Linked DNA regions of Homo sapiens: region 2 is linked to region 1. Evidence: fine-mapped expression QTL. Tissue or cell type: blood mononuclear cells. Region 1 holds a variant in brackets; the other region holds the start of a gene. All regions are shown on one strand. Distances are between the middles of the regions.

What was found. PIP is the estimated chance that this variant, and not a neighbour inherited with it, causes the effect.
Region 2: it holds the start of CHN1, and the variant in region 1 is fine-mapped to the expression of CHN1 in blood mononuclear cells (TOPMed, PIP 0.93).

The regions. Positions count from the first base shown.
Region 1 is chr2:174,785,312-174,793,418 of GRCh38, reverse strand. LOC124907908 (a long non-coding RNA gene) reads left to right here and starts at 5,469. Exons shown (of 2, transcript XR_007087311.1): 1 at 5,469-5,545. RefSeq lists enhancers at 4,584-4,878, 5,291-6,106. The variant A/G (reference allele first, on the strand shown) is at 3,144.
Region 2 is chr2:175,000,701-175,008,807 of GRCh38, reverse strand. It overlaps CHN1 (chimerin 1), which reads left to right and starts at 3,427. Exons shown (of 13, transcript NM_001822.7): 1 at 3,427-3,914. The coding sequence starts at 3,896. RefSeq lists a silencer at 3,667-3,726 and an enhancer at 3,711-4,257.

The DNA.
Region 1 (8,107 bases):
GGAGCAGGCTCTCTACCATCAATGCATCAAATGCCAGAGCATCAAGAAAACAAAAATCGGAAACTATATTCCATACAGTTGATTGCTCCTACTTCCCTTCAAAGTCACCTCCCAGTTTCTGACTCAAATCTGACTGTCCTCAATACTTTCTTTTCTTATTCAAATTTTATTCTAAATTGCATAACTTAACCTAAATTAGATGTTCTTAGAGAAAGGAAATGGGACTTTATCAAATTTTATAAAAATCACAAATCACAAGGAGAATGAATCAGATGAACACTTATTAACTAAAATCCTTAATTAGGAAGACCAGGGAGGTTCCCGAGAAACACAGGAAGTCATTTTTATGCAATAGGCACTAAACTCAAGGACTTTCTGTTGGAAATGTTAACTTCAAAGATTCTGTATTTCTCAGAGTGCATTTGAAAAGACTAGCATCCCATGTACTAGTCTCTTGTACATGTGAGAAATATGAATTGTTATGAGAACTATGACAACCTCCATCAACCGAACACAGCTATAGGTCCTAAGAACTGAGACCACCTGTGTCAACATGACTTAGTTGTTTTGTCCAGGAAATCTTTGCCCAAGGCAGATAAGACTATGAAGCAATAATTTCACTTTTGCTTCAGAAACTCCCTATAGAGCAATCTACTTGAGACAGCACACTGCTCACCTGAGCAAACAGCTTGCTTACCAAACAATAGCTTATCTATCAAAAGTCCCTGCCAGACCCTGCTGGGTTGGCTAGTCTTAACTACTATATGCCCTGCCTTAAAAAACCACCTTAACCAACTTGAGCCGAGTCCCCCCAGAACCCTACAAAATCCTCCTGTCTTCCTCATCCCGAGACACGACTTATATGCTGTGGCTCTCTCCCTTTCCGCCTTGAGTTCTGCTAGCTTAGTTTTGCTTTATCAGCAGGTTTGGTGATGCATTAGATAGTTCAACAGGTATCCCAAGAGCAAAGAGAACGACAGTTAAACGAGCTTGGGAAATACTGTATACCAATTCCACCTGTGTGGAAATTAGAATCATGTTAGCATAATAAAGCTTCTGAGAAGTTCTGCATTTTAAAAAGTTGAGGAGATTATACAAACTGGCAACTTGTGTATGGGAAGCCTTGTTGTTCCTGCAAACTTACTAACTTATCTAAAAACATTTTTTTTTCTTAACATCAGTTTTAAAAACATTACTTTAGGTCGATGGATGAATGATTTATCAGAAATGAAGGATCCTGGCATCCTGCAGCTAATGGGAAGTGACAAGACGCCCAGGCTCCCCACGCTGAGAATGTCCCCAGTCCACCAGCATAGCCTCTGCTGGGCCTGCCCTATGCCGGGAGTTCCCATGTGCTTAATGAGTTTGAGTAGACTGGAATCCCCGGATCTGTCAACATACAGCCTTTCGCTGAGGCACCCCCAGCAAGGCACCCATCCACTTTTTCAGAGTAGGAGGAGCCAGGATGCCTTCTTGCCCCAGAGTCCCAAAGCCACTTGAGCAGCCTGCCCACTAACACAGGCCCAGCCCAGAACCAGCATTCAGTGAACACCCACCCGATACCCATTCCCACTCCAGATGGTGATGCCAGGAGATCAGAGGAAATCCACACTGAGAACCTTCACAGTCTCTCAGTCAGGACAGCTAACTTCCCTGTTGTTTCCACTCTGGAAACCCCCTGGTTTTGTCCCAGGTCTGGGAGAAGAAATTAATAAATGATCAGATAATTCTAGGATCTGATGCATTGTCTGTGGAACCGGTGGCCAAGCAAAGAGGATGCGTGGCTCACAAAATCAAGGTTATTCCAATTGCCAGTGAGCATTTTGCAAGTGTGTTTCTTAGTATGTCCCCATTAACAATCACTAATATTAATTATAGTGATTAAAAGGAAACATCTGTGAAGACAGGCTTGAATTCTTATAGCTCTGGCTGGGTATAGCCAAATAAGACAGAGCTGCCAGAGGGAAGCATCATCATCATGTCTCTAGGAAGGGAGGCAGCAAGAAGGAGGGAGGGAGAAAGGCGAAAAAAAGGAAGGAGAAAGAAAAGATATTAATAGATAGGCATTAACTTAAACCGTTCAGGCTAGGCCCTAGGACACTGATTTTGTCTGCCCTCTCCCTTTTTCCTCCCTCTCCCCCTTCCTTGCTCTTATTACTCTGGCTTGCTGCTAGTTTTCAGATTGCAGAGCAATGCGTCTACAGAGGAAGCCAGAGTTTTTCACTTTGCGAAATTCATGCTGTTCCAAGTCTACTGAACTGAACATGGATTATAGCAAAGTTGTTAACATTTTACCTGCCCACATACCACGAACCGCTTTTCTTTTTTCTTCTTCCAACTTTATGACGGGAAGAAGCAAAGGGTTTGGTGGAAGGTCATTCTGACGGGAGCTGAAAATTTCTCACAAGGAAGAAATGCCCAGTGCCCCTGTACTCCTCTGTAGTGGGGAGTCAAGTCTCAGAGATGGCCAGGAGAGGACTGGCCCCACTCAGCCTTAGCCTAAGGTGCAGAAAAGCTCAGTCTGCTAGGAGAGGCCTCCCCACCCCCCACCCTCACTCTATACCTGGCCAAACACAAAGAAAAGTGGTAAAGAAAAAAAAAAATCTCTGCGATCAGTCAGCAACCCTGGGAGCAACTTTCTTCCTGATGTGTTTTCCTTCATTGAAAGCCTGGCCCAATCAAAGACAATGCCAAGAGCAAGCTACTTAGTTCTCAGAATGCCCAAGGTCTTCTATAATGTTGTGGAAAAAGACTCCAGGCTTGGAACGTAAAAACAAGGCTTGCCAATTATAAAAACTGCATTGTGGGAGAAATGAGAAAGCTGGCCAGTCTGGGGCTGGGGCCCCCGAAATATCAAAATCGAGGGCTTGCTTTGATATCTACAAGCCCTGCAAAGCTTTCCTTGGGGTCAGCAGGGGAGGGTGACTACAAGGATGATGGCCTTCCGGCCACTCCCACAGGAAAGACCTCAGATGGGATCCCCGTGTTCAGCATGGTATGGTGGTAGACAAAAGGACAAAAAATAACAAATGCTGGCAAGGATAGAGAGGGGAACACTCGCACACTGTTGGTGAAAATGTAAAGTAGTATTACCATTATGGAAACCAGTACGGAGATTCCTCAAGAACCTAAACTAGAACTAC[A/G]GTATGATCCAGCAATCCCACCGCTGGATATACATCCAAAGGAAATGAAATTAGTATGCCAAAGACACTTGCATGTTTATCACAGCACTACTCACAATAGCTAAGACAGCGAATCAACCTAAGTGTCCATCAACAGATGAATGGATAAATAAAATGTGGTGTATCCAAAATAGAATATTATTCAGCCATAAGAATGAAATCCGGGCCAGGCGTGGTGGCTCACGCCTGTAATCCCAGCACTTTGGGAGGCGGAGGCGGGCGGATCAAGATGTCAGGAGATCGAGGGCATCCTGGCTAACACAGTGAAACCCGGTCTCTACTAAAAATACAAAAAATTAGCCGGGCGTGGTGGTGGGCGCCTGTAGTCCCAGCCACTCGGGAGGCTGAGGCAGGAGAATGGCGTGAACCCGGGAGGCGGAGCTTGCAGTGAGCCGAGATCGCGTCACTGCACTCCAGCCTGGGCGACAGAGCGAGACTCTGTCTCAAAAAAAAAAAAATAAAAATAAAAATAAAAAACTCCTGTCATTTGCAGCAACATGGATGAAACTGGAGGACATTATGTTAAGTAAAATAACATGTTACTCATGTGTGGGAGCTAAAAAAAACCGTGAATCTCATAGAAATAGAGAGAGAATGGTGGTTACCAGAGGCTGGGAAGGGATGGAGGATGACGAGACGTTGGTTAATGGGGACAAAAATACTGTTAGATAGAAGGAGTAAGTTGTAGTATTCGATAGTATAGCAGGGAAGTTATAGTTAATCATTTATTGTCTATGTCAAAATAGCTAGAAGAATTGTGACTCTCCCAACTCAAAAATGTTTGAAGTGATAGATTTCCCAATCAGCTGACTTGATAATTACAAATTGTATACAGGTATCAAGATATTATACGTACCCCCATATACATGTACAACTATTATACATCAATTTCGTAAAAGAAAGACCTTAGTGAAATGGGAAAAGTTCACTTGTCGCCCTTGCAGGGCGTGCGACACGGGGACCGGCTTGCTTCTTCAGTGCCCCATTACTCAGGCCTCTAGGGAGCATACAGACGCGAAGGCTACCGGGCTCCAACCCCACGGCAGTGTCGAGGGGTGGATGTTTACAGCTCCTGAAGCCCCAGTGGGCGTGTGCTACCCTGCGCTCTTTTAGTTTTGTCGTCTATAGGCAGCTTGTATTAACCAGCTCAATTAGACCCTCTGCCTTGTTGCAACAACAGGGGGCTTTCTGTATCCTGGGTGCTTGCTTTGCTGTAACTGAAGAATCGGATCACACCTGGGCTTGGAGAATGAGTGCAAGATTTTGAGTAAAGGCAGCTCTCAGCAGATGGGGGAAGTCAGAAGGTGATGGAGTGGGAAGGCTTCCCCCCTGGAGTCGACAGCTCAGCGGCCTGGGCTCTCATCCGACTGCCACAGCATCATTCTGCTTCTGCCGGTCAGTGGCCTAGTTCCTCCGCCATTGTGCTCCTCTCCACGTCCTGCCATCTGTGTGTCTGCCTGCTAGGGCCTCAGGATTTTTATAGGCACAGGATGGGGGCGTGGCAGGCCAGGGTGGTCTTGGGAAATGCAGCATTTGAGCAGGAAAACAAAAATGCCTGTCCTCATCTAGGCTCGTAGGGGTGGAGCCCTAGCCAGGGGCCACGCCCTTCCCTCCCCCCCCCCCCCCGCCCCCGCTTCCGTATCACTTAAAGGGACCACGCTCTTCCCTTCGGTATCATTAGGAAGCTCAACAGGAAGGGAGGTGGGGTTATCATAGGCTAGCCATTCCAAAATACTATTTGAAAATGGGACTGAGACCGTAGTTTGGAAAGAAGTACTTGTTCTGAATGATCAAAGGGGAAGATGATCAAAGGGGAAGATGACACAAACTCTATAAAAGGGTCAGATGTCTGTTCAAGGAAATGAAGCATTAAGGATCTGATTATTCTTTAGGTTTTTAACTGATCAGGACTTGCAGTTCTTGTGTTACCAAGGGCCTGGTTTTCTGGTCAGCAGCACACAATTGTTTTAAATCCCAACCACTCATCCTAGTAATCCAAGCCCCTGAGTAGCCACAGGGGTCTTGCATTTCCCCGGGGCAATGGCTTGAGGGAGAGTCTCCTGCCCCTCTATGATTTTCAGGAAGAACTGATTCCCTGTCCCAGGTTAGATGGGTCTCCAGGAATATCCCTTAGTGACTAGAACAGAGCCCTCAGCCAGCCATCCTGGAGCTTCAAGCACCCTACTGCAGTGGGTGGTACATCTGGGCCCCATATGTTCGCAGGGAGGGGCTGAAGAGCCCAGGCCTACATTGCCAGGTCACCCACCCATTTGATGTGTGGTCACAGTGGAATCTGGTTGCCATGGGGATGCGAGGTTTTCTACTCAGGCTGTTTGAGAAGCAAATTTTTCCATTGTGTATATGTAAGCATACTTCAACATCTTTAAATTCCTTTTCTTTTTCAAATAGCATTCAGGGTGGATTCATACATTTAAAGAAAAATTCTAAAAGGCAATTTCCCAGAAAACAGGCTTTTGGAGGGTAACCAGGGTTCAGCCTTTGTTGAGGGATGAGGATAGGAAGAAGGGGCAGGGGCCACTTTTCTGAAAGCACCCAGGTCTACCCGCGCTGTTTAACATCTATCTCTGTGCTGCTGCCAGAGGCTGGCCCAACAGTAGCAGAAGCTCCAGGGATAGGCCAAAGAAAGCATTTTTTTCTTCTTCAACCTTCAACAAGGAAAGTTTACCTTGTTTTCTTTCTTGGTATTCAGTAAATGATTCCACAGCCCAGGCCTCTCTCCTCTATCTCAACACACAGGAACAATTTTTTGAGCTTCTGTGGACTTCTTTTTGGAATATGGTAAAATATACATAAAATTACCATTGTAGCCATTTTTAAATGTACAATTCAGTGGTATTAATTATATTTACAGTGTTGTGCCATCCATCTACAGAACTTTATCATCATGACAAATAGAAACTGTACCTGTGAAACAATAACTCTCAGCTGGGCGTGGTGGCTCATGCCCCTAATCCCAGCAGTTTGGGAGGATGAGGCGGGTGGATTACTTGAAGTCAGGAGTTCAAGACCAGCCATGGCCAACATGGTAAAACCCGTCTCTACTAAAAATACAAAAATTAGCTGGGGGTGGCCACACACGCCTGTAATCCCAGCTACTCAGGCTGAGGCAGGAGAATTGCTTGAACCCGGGGGGCGGAGGTCGCAGTGAGCTGAGATCGTGCCACTGCCCTCCAGGATAAGTGACAGAGCAAGACTCTGTCTCAAAAAAAAAAAAAAAAACTCTCAAGGGGCATGATAGCTACCTGCAGACCCAGCACTTTGGGAGGCTGAGCCAGGCAGATCACCGCTTGAGCTCAGGAGTTCAAGACCAGCCTGGGAAGCTTGGCAAAACCCAGTCTTTACAAAAATTACAAAGATTAGCCAGGTATGGTGGTGCATGCCTGTAGTCCCAGCTATTCGGGAGGCTGAAGTGGGAGAATCACCCTAGCCCAGGAGGTCAAGACCGCAGTGAGCAGAGATTGTGCCACTGCACTGCAGTCTGGGTAATAGAGTGAGATTCTGTCTCAAAGAAGCAAACCAACGACACACACACAATAACTATGCCCTTCTTTTCCTAGCCCCCGCTAACTACTGTTCTATTTTCAGTCTCTGTGAATTTGCTTATTCTAGGTACCTGATAGAAATGGAATAATTCTATAATATTGTCCCTTGGCGACTGGCTTATTTCCCTTGGCACGGGTTCAAGGTGCATCCATGTTGTAGCAGTCTCAATGCTTCATTCTTTTTAAGGCTGAATCATATTCCATTATATAGATGTGCTGCATTTTGTTTATCCATTCATCTGTGGATGGGCACTTGGGTTTTTCCACCTCTGGCTATGGTGAATAAGGCTATGGTGCACAAGGGTCTGTTTGAGTCCCTGCTTTCAATTCTCTTGGATATATAACCGAAGTAGAATCGCTGGATTGTAAGGTAATTCTATGATTCACTTTGTAAGGAACTACCAAACTATTTTCCACAGCAAGCCCGGGAGACTTCTGATTAATGCGTTTCCTGGAGCAGCTGAGGATTGTTTTCCAATAGAGTTTGGCAATGAGAACAATGGCATCTATTTTTTAATTCTCTTATTCACTTTCTATTTTTCTCTGAAGGTTTCTGTATGTCTTCTTTGTTCAAGATTCTCCTATTGACTGTTAGATATAACATATCTGGGGGCATCACTGAATTGATAATTGATTGATTGGTGGACAAAAACTGGCAACAAGGTGGGGTGAAGCAAACATTCTCCTGCTTTTCCAAACCCTCCTGTGGATCCAGCAATACTTGGCTTCCACCGGTCATTCACAGGGACCTTCATCACAACATCCTCTCTCACCCTCCCCACTCCCAGCTTCTGTCTCCCCCAGTCCATCCTCAGGACCAATGGAGTGTTCCTTCCCTGGACTCATTCTCCAAACTTCCACCACACTGGAAGTCTCTACAGCGTTGTCTCGTGTTTTCACTGTTATTCCTAATGTTTTGTCTTCTTGGGGCAGCATATTCCCACCCCTCCCACTTCCACACATACAACAGTCCCAGATATAAGGCTAAGCTCATCATAGAACTTGGAAAGTAAGAGCACACTGACTCACGACCCTGGTCATAGACTTGGACAAATGCTGCTTGGAGGTCCCAGAAGTAAGGAAGCCTGGGGTAAAGGAAGCAGCCATTTCTAGACATGGAGACTGGATTTTGCTTTTCTCTTTTGCATATTCTCATAGTGAATATAAAATATTCAAAGAAAGACATGTAACTGAAGAGTTTAATGAATAATTTATAAAGCAAACATCTTTGTCACCACCACCCAGGTTAAGAAGAAAAACATTGCCAGGCACCCCAGAAGTCCCTGTCCACCCTGGGAAAGAAAGTCTGGCTGATTCTGATTCCTTTCCTTCCCCTGGGTATCCGTATCTTGTGTTTTATAA
Region 2 (8,107 bases), 220 kb before region 1:
AGTTTAAAATGTAGGAAAACCATTTTAAAGGGTTGTCTAGGTTCTGTTTAGTCAACAAAACTTAAATAAAAATGAGAAATTGTTTTAGTAAATTTGAAATGGGTTGTTCAGTGCACACTTTTAATTTTAATCCTGTTAAACCAGAAAAAGGTTGCTTTCTACATGATTAATATAACATTATTAGTACAACACATTGCAGAAGAAATAGCAGTACCACTGGTTTGACAAAATATGACTTCTTTATTACATTAGGTATTTATGAACTTTAGATATAACAGCACTTTAAATATATTGAAGATTCAAATAAAAATGTCCTCTGTTTTATCCATAAACCAGTTAATTTAAAGATTTTAAAATATCACACAATGACAGATAAACCTAAAAGGGACATTAGAGATACCTTAGTACCATCCTTTCATTTTACAAAGGAGGAAGATAAGAACTAGAAACAGTAAAACATTTGTCTAAAAATCTGACAGCTAGTTAGTAACGAATAAACAAATCTGGCTCTTCTAAGCACTTGCATGTTAAGCACAAAATGAAATCATTGAATGAAAACATAAATATTTTGAGAAGTCAATTCATTCTTTGCCCTTCTTTTATAAACAATCTAAGTCACCACCCGTAATAATCACCTCCAAGCAGTTAACGCCCTTCCTTGCATTGACTCTGTAGCTGAAAGGCTGTGGCTTTATTTTCAGCTAAGTGAGAAAAGAAGCACATGCAATAGAATAGGAATAGCTCATTGAAAAAAATACGCTATTTTAAAAGCCAATACTATTTCCAAGACAGGCACTTTGATCAAGTATAGAGAGCATTTTGTTAGAGCATCAAACCATTTGGAAGTCAGTTGAAAGGAATGGCTCGTGGAAAGCAGGATGCTTTAAAGGGAAACATAGCAACATTCACACTGTTTTGTTCCAAATTGTACCTTAAAAACAGCTGTGTGTGTGTGTGTGTACGTGGGTGTGCGAGTAGAAAGGGGAGAGGAAAAGGATCTTCACTTGAGTTTAAGCAGGGTATTTCACTAGGATTCAGTTGTATTTGGCCAAACTAGTGAGTGGAAAGCTGGTCTAGTAACCAAAGGCCGGCTGTATGATGGGAGGGTAAATCTGAGTGCAGGGCAGCTCCTTTCTCTCTGTCTCACTCCCAGGACAACCCCTCAAGGGATGGAGAGAGCTACTAGCAAGCTGAGCTGCAGCACCAAAACCTTGATGCTCTAACAGAGCTTAACAAAGAGGAGAGAAAGGCATTGTTTCTCTTTTAGCATGATGGGACACATAGTTCTGAGTAGAAGGGCATGTTAATAAAAACTCTTTGAGACAAAATGCAACTTCCCAAACTCTATGCAGAATGGCTAAGGACAAAATACTCTCGTTATTTTGCTTCTAATACTAAACAGATTTTTCTTTTGAAATTCAAACCATGCAACCTCTAAATTGATGCGGGATGTGGGTAGGGAAGGTGGTCGGTGAGAACACCAGAAATCTAAGATTTTCCCATTGGTTCTGCTACTAAATAGGTGAACACATTTGGGAAAATCTTTTTACGGGGAACTCAATTTTTTTACCTATAAATCATGGGAGTTTTGGTCTTTTCCTATTCAAAATTCAATGGTTCTATTCTGAAGGAAAATATTTTCCTTTAAATTATAAAGGCAAAAACTTTCTGAGATTACAAAAAACACTTCCAGGGGCTCACCTAAGGTCCCTGAATAGCCCATAATCCCCTTGAAATTATGTGAAAAATTTCCGGTGAATGTGTGTATGTATGCAAGCACTTTTCTAAGAGGAGGGACAGTATTTTCATTAGAGCCTCAAAAGGAAATTTGGTCCAAAAATGTTGAAGACCACTAGTTGAAACAGTAAATGGAGTCTTCGGTTTCTGATTTATTTGGCTGCAGAGCAGATTAGCAGCAATCTTTATATGGTTATAAAATCTATCCCACAAAGCTTTCTTGAGTTTCTCATTTATTTTCATGAGCTGTGTGTTTGTAATTTTTTATGAGCAGAAAGGTTGTTCAAAATCAAGAGTCCATTTTCATGAAAGATTTTAAATTCTGGGGATTTTAAAGATGTATTTTGATTAGTGGCTAAAGAGAGCCATTTTACATCACAAAATTCCAAACATATAGCATCTTAAACACTTGCCCATTCATGTTGAATCATTTTAATATTTCTTTCTTCCTGAGTTAACTGACTTGAAACAAAAGGCTTGGCTCCTCCTTCCAACCTGCTTTTCTTCTGATGCTTAAGTCTGCTTTGAAATAATGATGGTGAATTAACTGTGGTTCCATTGGAAGTACTGTAGTAATCTCCCACTTTATCAGGATTCGATCTCTAAGATACATTAAATACAAGATATTTCTATAATATTCTTAAAGAATTATTTGAAAATGGGAGAGAAGACACTAGGGAACCTGAGGAACTAAGAGGAAAGACGCCTGTAGAAAGAAAGGAGAACCAAAGAGAAGATCTACATGATCAGATACCAAAATAGTATCAAATCCCTAAGCAGAGAAACAAGAAAAAAGAAGGAATTTCTTAAACAGGGAACACATATAGCAACTAGAGAAGAATGACTTTTTGAATACATTAAACGACAACGACGAAAAACATATAACCCAGCTTTTCAAGAACATCTTTTGGCTGACAATCTCAAGGCGTTGTATGGCTCCTCATGGCAGAGACAGAGGTGAGGAGACAACATCACAGAAAGGAGGACGTTGCCAGTGATTATCAGATAAATACAAGAAGCTCAGGGGAACAATCTTTTGTGGCAAATAAGTGCCAGTCAGTGACACATGCTGATTTTTTTTTCCTTGAGACAATATCAAAGAGGTATAATGTAAAGGGAAGAAAATCAGGTGTAAGCATTGGTCTTTTAACAAATTATCTTAGGTAATCTCAGATGCTTTTTAAGCGACTCCTTTTCCTAATGTGTGTCAATTTCATCAGAACTACTAGCAGCTCCTAAGTCCAAACGGAGAGGAATGCAGCTTTCAGTGCCTCTGTTCCTACCAGAGCCCTGCAGCTTCAGGTCACCGGCTCCAGCCACAGTGAGCCTGGAGGGCGCCAGGAGAAGAAATATGTTCTCACACGCACCAGGTCCCCAGATGACCCTGCCTGGGCGCTGCGTTCACTCAGCATCCTCCTGTGACTCTTCCTCTTTCGAGTAACAGCGTTTTTCTCCTCTCTGCGCCTCCTCAAATTCCATTCAAGAAAAAACCTGGGCTTTCAGCTAAAACGCACACCGGCCCCGCTCCATCCCGCTCCGGGCGGCCGCCTCCAGGGGGGCGCTGGTGGCTCCTCGCAGCCGCGGGAATGAGGGCGCACCCTCTTACCCCCGCGCGCGCCCGTTGCCATGGGAACGCACTCGACCGGGAAGCCCGAGGGAGAGGCGGGAGGCAGCGGCGCGGCCGAGCTCGTGGGAGACGCTATCGCAAGATGGCGTCTGCGAGGCCGCGGGATGCGGAGTGAGCGCGCCCCGCCGGGGGCTGTGCGAGGCTGCTGCTGCTCTCCCCGTCGCCGCCGCCGCCGCCGCCAGTGCGGCGCCGCCTCTCCGCCAGCCACTGCGCCGCGGCCAAGCCTCCTGCCTCGCAGGTACCTCCTCCCGCGCGCACGCTCCGCGCCTGATGGCAGCGACAAGTGCCGGCTCGCGGAGAGCTAGCGGGGCTCCCTGGGCCCGGTGCGCCCGACAATAACGCGTGAATAACTTTTTCTTGCAGCGGTCCCCCGCGTCCCGGCCTGCAGCCTCCCCGGGCGCCGGCGCCCCCAGCACGCCCCATCGGGCACCCCACTCTCTCCGAGGTGTGGGTGCGGCGGGCTGATGAGGTGATCCCTAGCCCGCCTGGGAGGAGCGCCTGGACTCGCGGGCGGCGGCGAGCGCCTTTACAATGGCCCTGACCCTGTTTGGTAAGTGCAGCCGTCTCCCCGCGCCGCCGCAGGTGGGCCGCGTCCCGGGGCTCGGGGGCGGGGGCCTGGGGGGCCTGGGCGCCCGGGGAGGGGGCGCGGCGCGTGGGGTCGGGGCGGGCCGGGGCCGCAGAGTTGGGGCGCCCGGGGCGCCGGCTTGCTCCCTCGCGCCTCTCCCATTGTTTCCTCTCCCGGCAGGGCCGATGGGCGTGTGCTCCCCTGGCCAATTCTCGGCTGGGAGGCTCAGAGGTCCTGGGTGTTTTGCAAACGCACAAAGATTCTCTAAGATGCCAACTTGGGAGTGAAGTTAACTGGTTGTTTTCAAACCTGCCTTTCCCGTCGGTAAATAAATCCTTGGAAAGTTTATTTATTTTGAACGAGGTATCTGTGAGTCCCCAGCCTCCTTGGAATTGCCAAATGCATGTGTTGCTTCCTGTTGGACTATTGGGGAATTTTTTTTTTGGACTCAGTATATTCCGTTGGAAATAAGTATGATTTGTGAACTGAATATGGGTTAAAATTGAAAATGTTTGCACTAACGAATGAGAGCAGACAGAATAAAGTTGGTTACCAGAAGATAACTGTAATCTCAGGAGACTGAGTATTCATTAAGAATGAAATGTTATTTTTGTGGTGTAATTACTGCAGCACTGTTGCTTTTGGTGGTTAAGACTTCAAGCTGTTTTTTTCTCAGTCTGCAATGACAATGGGTTGGGAAAAAGGACTGAAAAGATACATTCTTTCCTTTTACAAAACGACTATGGTACATACGTACCTGACTTTAAGAAAACTCAATATGTGAACATTAGACGTTCAAAGTATTCAGCTTTTTTGAAGAAGCAAAGTACAATGATATGTAATTGATAGCTACGAGAACAGCCTAAGTAAGTTATTCACAATATCAAGTTTCCAGTTCAGTTTTAATTATGTCATTTGATCAAACACGTTAGAGGTGTTACATACCTCAAATGCTTTTTGAGGTAAATACTTCCCAGTGAATTAAGCTGCTAGAATCAAAGTGTTACTTTTATTTAACTATCTTATTTTATAAATTAAACTTAGACCCAGAGAGGTTGTTTCCCAAAGTCACATGGCTCTTTTGTGGCAAAACTGAGCCTAGAATTCACTTCACCAGGCTTCAGTCTGGGACTGTGTTTACTGTGCCCAAGTGCATTACTAGAAGTGCCATTTCTTACTTGGTGATGATCCTCCATAGGTACTTTAAAAAAGTGTCTTCTTTTTCTGAAAAATAATAAAATTCTCGCTGTTTCTCAGTACCTTGTATCTAAGCATTATTTAATAGCAGCATTTTCCTTAAATGTGGACCTTTTTGGTACAAACATTTTCTTTCCTAAAGAGATATTTGGCATTTTCAAGGTGTGGTTTCAGAAGTAAGGTTTACAAGTCAACTTTTCAAATACTCGCATTCCTGACGAATAAAAAAGATAAATTGGGGTGAAAAATGCTCTTTTAAAAGGATTTCTAAATTCTAAATCTTTAACCACTGTGGTGAAGATGAGGAAGGGAAAAGCATGGAATGTGGCCTATAGAAGAAAGTATAAGAAATCACTCCCAGCCTTCAAAATGAATAATGTATCTTTAAAATTTTAAAGTCTACTTATGGGAAAATAGAATTCACTTCCCAAAATCCAGTTTGTTACAGTGTGAACGTTTCTGTGTTATAAAACAAAGCACTCTTGAGTGCAGAGGCTATTTGTTAAGTAGTGATAGAGCAGCAGCTGTTTTTAAAAGTGGTTGTACACCACTCATCAGTCATCTGGGATGTCTATTAAAAATGTAGATTCTTTTGCCCAAAGACATGGGGGAAGGGGATTTTAAAGTGACTCCCTTTGTGATTCTTATGCTCACTCAAGTTTGAGAACTGTTGTATTCAAGATAAATGCTAGGAGATTGGGTCAAACTCGCCCAATACAAAATAGCTTTTTGTGTATGTTGAGAGATGTACCTAAGGGTTAGAAGAAATGGATTTTATTTTAGATTTTACTACCTTTAACTAGTTGGTCTTAGTCAGAAGTGCCTCATGTCCCTTCATATTTACTCTTAATGACCAACTTAGAACAGAAGAGCAATGGAGCAATAAAGTTCTGTGAGATGGTAGTGAAAAGAGTTAGAGGCAGGGACCTAACCAGATCAACAGGATTTGTCAGAGCTCAGCAGAGTTTATACCTGAGGCTCCCCAGAGTAACGACTGCCAGGGCCCTATCTTTTGTATCTTGGTTGATTAGTTAGTGCAGTCCAGCAGTAGAGTCTAGACTAGTTATTTGCTTTGTGTTTTACATTTTCTTTCCATTCAGGCTTTTTATAAATTTAAGAAATGTTCTTTTTATAGGGAGTTGGTGACTTAGTTTTAAAAAGTGGAGCCTCTAACATTACCTGATTTTGTATTTGCATACATTTAATTTTTTTCACCTGTTAAGTATATTATAGGAACTCGAATACTTGTTAAATTAAGCTGAATAGTTAAGACTGTTTTATCTCTCATCCTCACTGTTAATCACCTTTGCTGCTTAACATATTTTTAATGCATATTAGTTTTATTTTGGGATAGAAGAACCAGACCCCAATCTTGAAAGATTTTACAGTCTCATTTGGGAATTGAAAATGTGCATTTTTGAAAGCTTAAGAATTTGCACCCGTTTTTCTTCTCCTTTCAAATGAACTCACATCTCATTATCAGCTTCGATATAGTTTTTAAATCCCCCAATTTCAAAAATTATCCAAATGTATTACAGACTCTGCTCGCTCACCTTGCTCATTTTTTCAGCAAACATCTGTCACAGCGTACAAGAGACATGGTCCTCTAGTGGCACTTCAGAGTCTTTTCTAGAACTATAGCGAATGCACCTAATTCACTAATTACCTAATTCCGTATAGTGAGTGGCACTTAACTATTAACTAATTCCGTATAGGCTTTGTGAGAACTTCCTTAGTAGAGAGCACATGTTTTCTAGTAATTACTGGGATAAAAGGAAAGTCTCAGATCCTTGAATATGGGAATTTGTGGCTGGTGTACCTGACAAAATGTCCTGATTGGCCACACCAATAGAGCCTTAGTTGGCAGAGCTGGGTGAATAAGCATTCTGCCAGCTCTTGCCTTGGCAGGAATCTCTGTCATTTATAGCTTAATGGGGCTGTGGTTTATAGCCCAGACCAACTGATGCGATTGGGAACTCAGTTACCGTCGGCTGGGCTGGCTGAACCTTGAATAATGGTCCTCTATCTGGGTAGAGTCACCTCTGGCGTTGCTGCTCACCCTCCTTGCCCCTTATTCTTGTTACCATTTAGTCACCATCTTACTACCATAGATCACTTCTAATAATGCTTATGATTTTGCTATAATTTTGTACCATCTTTCCTCAGACCCTTCTGCCATGGAAACCTTTTCATTATCTCACTTTATTCAGCATCTGTCACTAACCTGACACACCTACCTATGGACATCTTTTGGAGCAATTAAATAGCAATGGCATATTCTTTGTGATGTAGTTAGGAAATTTTCTGATTTCCCATAGGAATGTCCTGAAATTAAAATGTATTTTTTAAAAGACAAGTCAATTGAAGATTTTCATATTTGACTGAAAGCTAATTTTATAGGAAGTTCCCACTTGACTATACTCTCTGCTGACATTTTTATTTTTCAGTTGTCCAAAGAATACAAGAGGCTGGCCCAGTGGTGTGAGCTCATCTGCCTTTTTCAGAATATATTCTTTTCAGCTGTCATTTAAATCATCATCCTTATTTAAATTTTTGTCCATGTTCCTTCTTGTACTGGTGTCAAAACTTAATATTTTAGTCAGACATGGTGGCAATGTGCCTGTAGTCCCTGCTACTCAGGAGGTTGAGGCAAGAGAACTGCTTGAGTTCAGAAGTTCAAGACTGTAGTTGCACTATGATTGTGCCTGTGAATAGCCACTGCACTCCAGTCTGGACAACACAGCAAGACCCTGTCTCTAAAAGAGTAAAAATAAGAAAACCCAGCTGGGCATGGTGGCTCACATCTGTAATGGGTGGCCCATGCCTCCTGGCACTTTGGGGGGCCTAGGCTGGAGGATCACTTGAGCTCAGGAGTTTGAGACCAGCCTGAACAACACAGGGAGATACCATCTCTACAGAAAATAATAATAATAATAAAGCCTGGGTGCAGTGGTTCATGCCTGTAATACCAGCATTTTGGG